2 linked regions of the Homo sapiens genome follow. The protein of the gene in region 2 purifies or fractionates together with the protein of the main gene of each other region. This does not show direct contact. Each region holds a gene or a part of one and is shown on either strand. Other genes may lie near its edges.

What was found. Proteins that work in one complex are often made in the same cells at the same time.
Region 1: the proteins of MTM1 (region 2) and SCO1 purify together in Homo sapiens (affinity purification with mass spectrometry, with the first as the bait; one large-scale study listed by BioGRID). This does not show direct contact.

Annotation. Positions count from the first base shown.
Region 1 is NC_000017.11:10,683,931-10,687,583, forward strand, and holds part of SCO1 (protein SCO1 homolog, mitochondrial), read right to left. Parts: intron 2,913-3,653; coding exon 2,797-2,912; intron 1-2,796. UniProt on the Homo sapiens protein: Copper metallochaperone essential for the maturation of cytochrome c oxidase subunit II (MT-CO2/COX2). Not required for the synthesis of MT-CO2/COX2 but plays a crucial role in stabilizing MT-CO2/COX2 during its subsequent maturation.
Region 2 is NC_000023.11:150,637,968-150,641,620, forward strand, and holds part of MTM1 (myotubularin), read left to right. Parts: exon of another isoform or gene 1-794; intron 795-975; coding exon 976-1,059; intron 1,060-3,301; coding exon 3,302-3,451; intron 3,452-3,653. UniProt on the Homo sapiens protein: Lipid phosphatase which dephosphorylates phosphatidylinositol 3-monophosphate (PI3P) and phosphatidylinositol 3,5-bisphosphate (PI(3,5)P2). Has also been shown to dephosphorylate phosphotyrosine- and phosphoserine-containing peptides.

The DNA of each region.
Region 1 (3,653 bases), on a different chromosome or scaffold from region 2:
GCAGGTCCTTAAATGATAACAGAAGTTTCCCAAACCATCCTATGGATGAAAATCTGTGACCTCAAGGGACTGAAGTCATACTAATGAAAAACCTAAGAAGCTGAAGAATGTCTCCCCCTATTGGATGATTTAGCAAATGTACAGCATGAATTCCTCATCGAATCTCATCAAAAGTCAAATTCTTATGGCAGTAGGCCAGTATTTCTCAAAATGGGGCCAAAGATACATTCTACAAGGTCCAAGAAGTTTCCATAAGACTTACATATTTTTGTTTTCATTTGTAATTAAAAACATTAATATCCATATTCTGGATTATCTGTGTTGTGAGTATAAATTTCAGTGCCCAGGCTTGTGTTTGCTCCATGATCTCACTGGCACCTAGCTGCCCACTGCTGTTACAGGCAGACATGAATATGATACATTCTTGCCAAATCAACACTAACCAGGCAAGGCAGGCTACACGATTAAAGGTTTCAAAGTATTTTAAATAGAAAATGCAGAGGGGCAGTTGAGTAGAGTTGGGTATGTGATAGCAGTCTGACCAAAACCCCCTCCCTTCTTGCCCTGAGCAGCACTTTGGTTTCAGCAAAATCTCTTGTCAATGTAACTGAATGTTTTCAATTTAAGTTTTGCAGGCTGTTTGGGTTTATTTGTACAACTGCTTTCTGATTTGACTTTCTGACTCTGAGTTATGAGTTCTAAGCATCAAGACTATGGAGTGTTACCTAGTTTAGGACTGTATACATTTAAACAATTTAATATAACTCATTTAATGCTGGAAATCAGACTGATGAGCTCATCTATTCCTGCTGTCATCATCGGATAAACTCAAAACCAGTTAATACAACTCTCTATAAAGACAGAAGTCCGGAAAGTCCTTTTCCTATGGTTTCCTCTTTTGGCCACTGTGGCTCTCTGCTCTTCTCTCATTCTGCTAGAGAAGCAGCAAGAGGAAAACAGAGGAGGGTCCCTCTACTTTCCTTACAATTAAGGCTTAAAGAAAAGTGCTCATTTTTCTCATCTTTTACTCCAAGGAATCCAAGTTTCCCTAATTCTACGAGGCACCACATCTGGAAGACAGGATTACTGTGTAGGCTTAATTAAGGCAAACAGGCCAGAACCTTGCTTTTAATTCAGGCTGTAGGCTCCAGGGGCACACACGTTCCAGGTTCAAAGGGACAAAGAAATCATAGTTGGCTGTTGAGACAAAGCACTGCAGTGAGACATCCCATCCCCTCTGCATCTCAACTCTTGGGATGGGCCATGGGGAGCTGCTGGATCAGTGACTCAGGGTCTTGGCCATCTTTCTTTCTACAAAGACAGCTTCACAGCTAGAAAGGCTCTTAGGATTACTCTGCCCAAACAATATTATAGAAAAAACAGAGTATGACAACTAAGAAAAATACTGAAATAATGCTAAAATACAACGCCGACTCTTCATATGATAGGAGAAAAATGTCCAAATTGAGAGGAAAATTGGTGGATAGTGGTGGTGCTAATGCCTTTTGGTGCTTCACTGTGAAACCACTGACAAGAAAAGAAACACAGTAACTTGGGCATGACCTTAAGGCTTCTGGGGCAGTGCTGATGAATATGAAGATAGTTAATTTAAGAGCTACACAAGTACAACAGAATTTCTGTTCCTTATCATTAAAAAGCACATATTTAACGCCTAACTGTCCAAGGCATATAGTCAATGGGCAAATAAACCTTTCATCTTTTGCTTTTCAGAATTCTCATTCAACCTAAAAATGCAGTTCTCCATGGCCTAAAACTGGTTCTCCAGAAGAGCAATTTCTGATACCTCTACTGGGGACACAGTGAGAACCAACACAATCTTTTTAAAATAAGTGTTGTTCCAAATGATGGCTTCTCTTTATTTCCAACATGGCACCCAAGTATCTGGTTTTAAACTGCCCTAAAATCCTATATGCCACTATAAGAGAAAAACAGGCAATTGAATTATGAGAACAGTGAATATAAATCAAACAATCATCTTTTAAAAAACTGCTTCTGGCTGGGCGCAGTGGCTCAGGCCTGTAATCCCAGCACTTTGGGAGGCTGAGGTGGGCAGGGCAGACCACCTGAGGTCAGGAATTCGAGACCCCCTGGCCTCGCCTGGCCAACATGGCAAAACTCCTTCTCTACTAAAAATACAAAAACTAGCCAGGCGTGGGAGCACATGCCTGTAATCCCAGCTACGCGAGAGGCTGAGGGAGGAGAATTGCTTGAATCCGGGAGGCGGAGGTCGAAGTGAGCCAAGATCGCACCACTGCACTCCAGCCTGGCTGACGGAGTGAGACTCCGTCTCGAAAATAAATAAAAAGTAAAAAACATGCTTCTATTATCCTTTCAAATATTCAAAATTCCTAAGGAGGCTGGATGCGGTGGCTCACGTCTGTAATCCCAGTACTTTGGGAGGCTGAGGCGGGTAAGGTCAGGAGTTCGAGACCAGCCTGGCCAACGTGGTGAAACCCCGTCTCTACCAAAAAATATAAAAAAGTAGCCAGGTGTGGTGGCGCGCACCTGTAATCCCAGCTACTCGGGAGGCTGACATAGGAGAATTGCTTGAATCTGGGAGGCGGAGGTTGCAGTGAGCGAAGATTGTGCCACTGCACTCCAGCCTGGATGACAGAATGAGACTCCATCTCAAAAAAAAAAAAAAAAAAATTCCTAAGGACTTTGCAATAATCTTAGGTATTCTCTCTTCTCAGAAGCTAGTCAGTCATTGAAAGCCTTATGACTATTTGGGATCTGGGAGCTGGTCCATGGGTTAAAACTGGAACATTTACTCACTATGTAGTCTTCATCTTCGTCCTTGGGGCCAGGGCTGTAATACACTCTGTATGCTCTGGCCACTTGATCGACCTCTTCTCTCGTGCCAGTCAAGCCAACCAGTTTGGGAGAAAATTCTAAATAAAAAATGAGAGAGACAGTGAAAAATGAGAAGCCAGTAAAACAACCATCTCTACTTCAAAAAATGTATCAGTTGTAAAGCAGCTCTACTGCCACTTTCTTCCTGTGAGTCTCCAAACATTTCTTCACGATTCAAAGGAAAAGGAGAAGAAATTCACAAAGAACAAATGAAAATTCTCCTTTGTAATATATAAGTCAAATCTTTTTATGACTATCTAGTAAAGACCTGGAGGGAATATTTTCTAATCACTTGTATCACATTTTAAATTGATTTTTAAGGAGTAGTCACATGTAGTTCTCAGATATACTAAAGCTTAAAATTATTATCATAAATTAAATACTATAACTTTTCATGGCATCATATGGGGAAAAAAATTTGCTTCATAACTAAGTTCATATCAGGTCAAAATACCTGTGTCTTATTTTCCTGCAAATAATTTCAACACTGGTATCAAGTTCTACTCTTTACTTCTGATTTAAAAAAACTGGTTAATTAATACTAGTCATCCCCAAAACGCAATCTTAACAAAGTTCTGAAATAAGGGCAAATCATTCACAGCGTGTATCTGCTATTAAGTTTTTGGAATTCATGTAAGTGAACCGGTAGAGGTCACTTAAAACAACTGGATTCATCAAACTACTGAAATGACAGCCCAACATTTAACAGCAGTTCCTTTTTCTAAAGGTACAGAAGCCAATTTTTGTTCCTTGGATGAACTCATCATTCTAAATGAGAC
Region 2 (3,653 bases):
ATCTGACCTATGACACTGTCACTCTGACTTGAGAAGTACAAAGATGAAAGCAGGGGAGCAGTTAGGTTTTTATAATCAACCAAGTAAGAGATGATGGTGGCTTGGACCTGGGTGGTAGCCACGTGGTGACAAAGATGAATCCAAGGTTTTCAGCTCAATCAGCTGGAAGTCATGTACTGAAATGGGGAGACTGTGGGAAGAGCAGGACTGGGTAGGGGGAGCCAAGAGTGTTTGGCTTTGGTTGTGTTAACTTGAGAGTTCTTCAGATGCCTCTTAGGCAGTCTGGTGGGGTGGTAGAGTGGACACTTGGATAGCCAAGTCTGGAATTCAGAGGGGATGCTGGAGAATGATAGGTCCTTACTAGTCACTAGAGTATGGATGGTATTTGAAGCTATCAAATGTATCAACAGCACGTTGAGGGTGAGTATATATAGAGAAGAGGTGAGAGGTCTGAGTCCTGCCATTTCACAGAAACCAGGGCATTGATTCAGAATTCACAGAGAACAGTTAGCTCAGAGTTTTCTTAATATCCTATCTTTTTAAAAAATAAACATGTCATTGTTCCCTTTTGAGACAGTTGCACCGTTTAACAATAATTCCTGAATTTTATTTTTCTTCCTTTCCTTCTTTCTTTTTAGTGGCTTGTACCTGATCAATTGCTAATACTGTTTAAAATTGATAGGCACTTTTTGGTCTGGTAATCTGATTTTTTTGTGGAACATCATTAAAAGAACAATTGAGAGATTTATAGCCATAGAAAATTGAGGCTTCTATTACTCAAGATAGAAGTTAGCGTAAGTCTGATCTGAGTTTTCCACTGTTTTTTTTTGTTGTTGTTGTTATAAGCCTTGGTGTGGGTTGTAATTTCATGGTCGGCAAATCTGGTGAAATTTATTTTGCGAGAAATCAAAAGATGTACTATAATAGTAGACTGTTCCTTCACGCTGAACTTTATTTATTTTTTGCCTTTTCTAGCCATTATTTGCATTTTTAAATGAAGAAAAGTTTAACGTGGATGGATGGACAGTTTACAATCCAGTGGAAGAATACAGGAGGCAGGTAAGATGTTAGATGCTATTGTCTGGTATGTGATGAACCTGAAACATGCATTATGACAGTATGTCATCAGCCATGCTTTCTGAAAATCAGCGACATCCTTGCTAAATATCTTTTCAATGGTGGTGATATTATCCACATTTTGTACAATATATCTCATTCTATCTATTACTGTATAACTTATAAGCTCATTCCATTGCCATATGCAAGCTGCATCGAAGACTGGGTCACTAAATCCTATTTCCTTCCCTATATGAAGAGCATCAATTCTGTGTTGTTTATGAAATGAATTAAATACTTAGGATTTAGAAAAGTCAAACATTTTAGAAGTTACACTTTAGGACTTGATATTGCTATGTATATGCATGTTTGGGAGCTTAACTATTACCTGCAGTTAGATTTAAATTATATTCATTTCAGTTTGCAGATTCAAATGAATTAGAACTGTTTTCCTGTAGTGATGTCTTTTTCAAGGAAGCTTTGATAAGTGTACATTATAATTGTCTTTACTGTTCTCTTATATGAATGTCACCTACATGCATGTTTATTTGCTATAATAAAGGCAAGAGGCTTGGTCTCATATTGCTGTTCAGGAACAAAAGTCTCTTGCAGTATTTTTGTTAAGGGAATTCTGTGCATAATATGTAACAAGAGCCACAGTTTGACCTCTGGTATAACCAAATCTGTAGGCAGCTAGGAGTTGTGTGATGGGATTATTCACAATTCTTGTTCTACAAAGCTCTTAAGATAATTGAAAAGTTTTGTTGAATGAGATTTGAGAATCAGATCAAACCCATTTGCTTTATATGAAAAGGTAGTGAATATAAAGTAAAATCGTAGAACCCTAGACTTGAGAAGAACCATCTAGTCACCACCTTCACCATGAAAAACCTGGATTGGTTTCCTTTTTTAGTCTTAATCAACGGTTTGCATATTCATGAACAGATTTGACGCTCTGGAATTTGGGTGCAGGAGTTTAGCTTTAGAACATATGTGACATAGTATATCCTGTTGCTTCCATAAGTCACGTTTAGACTGTTGAGTTTTCTAAGGCTTTGCACTACTCCCATTTTAATGGCCTCAGTTCTGGACTAGCTACTGAGGCGGAAGAAGGACCATGAAAACATTTTGCATGTTTTGGAGACCTCTGTAAATGATGTATTAAAATATTTTTACCTTCTTTTTGAAGTATTACTGATAACATTAAGACTTTTTTTTAGTTCAAAGCTTCTAGCTTGAAACAAAACAGTTCCTGTTTTTAAGATTGCATGCATATATGAACTGTTGAAGGTATTTTGTTCTAGACTGCCATTATATTCAATCTTTTTTTCTTATAACTTTCTGATGGGACTTATAACTGTCTAATTGGACTCAGCATCAGACTCAACATCTGTTTGGTCCGTGGTCTCTAGGGCCAGACCTAAAGAAAAGGTACAATGTCTGTCCCCAAAGCAAACACCCACATAGCTCACTTTTGTGTGTGTATCTGTGCATTTGTGAGAATGGGGAGAGAATATTCCACCACCTCTGGATCTTTTCCATACTAAATACAATTTTGTGGGGGAGATGATAGGATGGGAGGTGTCTTCTGTGTCTCCCTGTCACATTAGCAGTCTGCTTAAAATGCAAATGACTGTATTTCTCACACAAACTATAGGGCAATCATCGATTCCGAACAACTTGATTGAAAAAAAACTCATCGGAGGTGGCGAAATGAGCCTCCCCAGAGGGATCTTCCTTTACTTCCCCTCATGATTTTCTTCATGAGCTCAGCCTCTTTCCACTTTGGAGCAGACTGAAGCATTCACTCTATTTTGAGCAGGGAGAGGAAGTTGCCTGATCTCTTTTCTACCCTCAGTTAGAGCCAGATTAAGATGAAGCAGGGTATTTTTTTAGGGGATGGGAGGGGTGCATGGGCGGGGGATGAACTTGGGTTTATCTGTGTGGTACAGGTAGTAAAGAATATGTGGACACAAAATAAAGGAAGACGAATTCCTTTGAATTCAAGAGAATCTGTATTTACAAAGTATAGTTTAGAACTGTAAAAACCACCAGTGTTTTGTCTTGTGTTCTTACGTTGTCTGGATTATTGATTTGGCACCCTTATTATAAATAGGTAGACCGTCATCACCCTGTGGTCAAAGAGGCATGTGCACATATTGCTAGAAGGAAGAAAAGAGGCCCAAGGCCAAATCCAGAGATGAGGTCAAGCAATACTGACTTGAATTTCTTTTTTTCCTCACAGGGCTTGCCCAATCACCATTGGAGAATAACTTTTATTAATAAGTGCTATGAGCTCTGTGACACTTACCCTGCTCTTTTGGTGGTTCCGTATCGTGCCTCAGATGATGACCTCCGGAGAGTTGCAACTTTTAGGTCCCGAAATCGAATTCCAGTGAGTACTGCAATTAACGTTTCTCTTGAAGAGCACCTTTTAGTCCATAAGAATGGTAGTCATATAACTTAGAGAAACGGTCCTTTTGGAATTCTATCCCAAAAAATACTTACTAAGTGCTTTGTGAGTACAAAGTACCATACCAGACTGGAGAAGAAGTGTGCCGTCACCTGCCTTCTAGGAGCTTGCAACTAAGGATCAA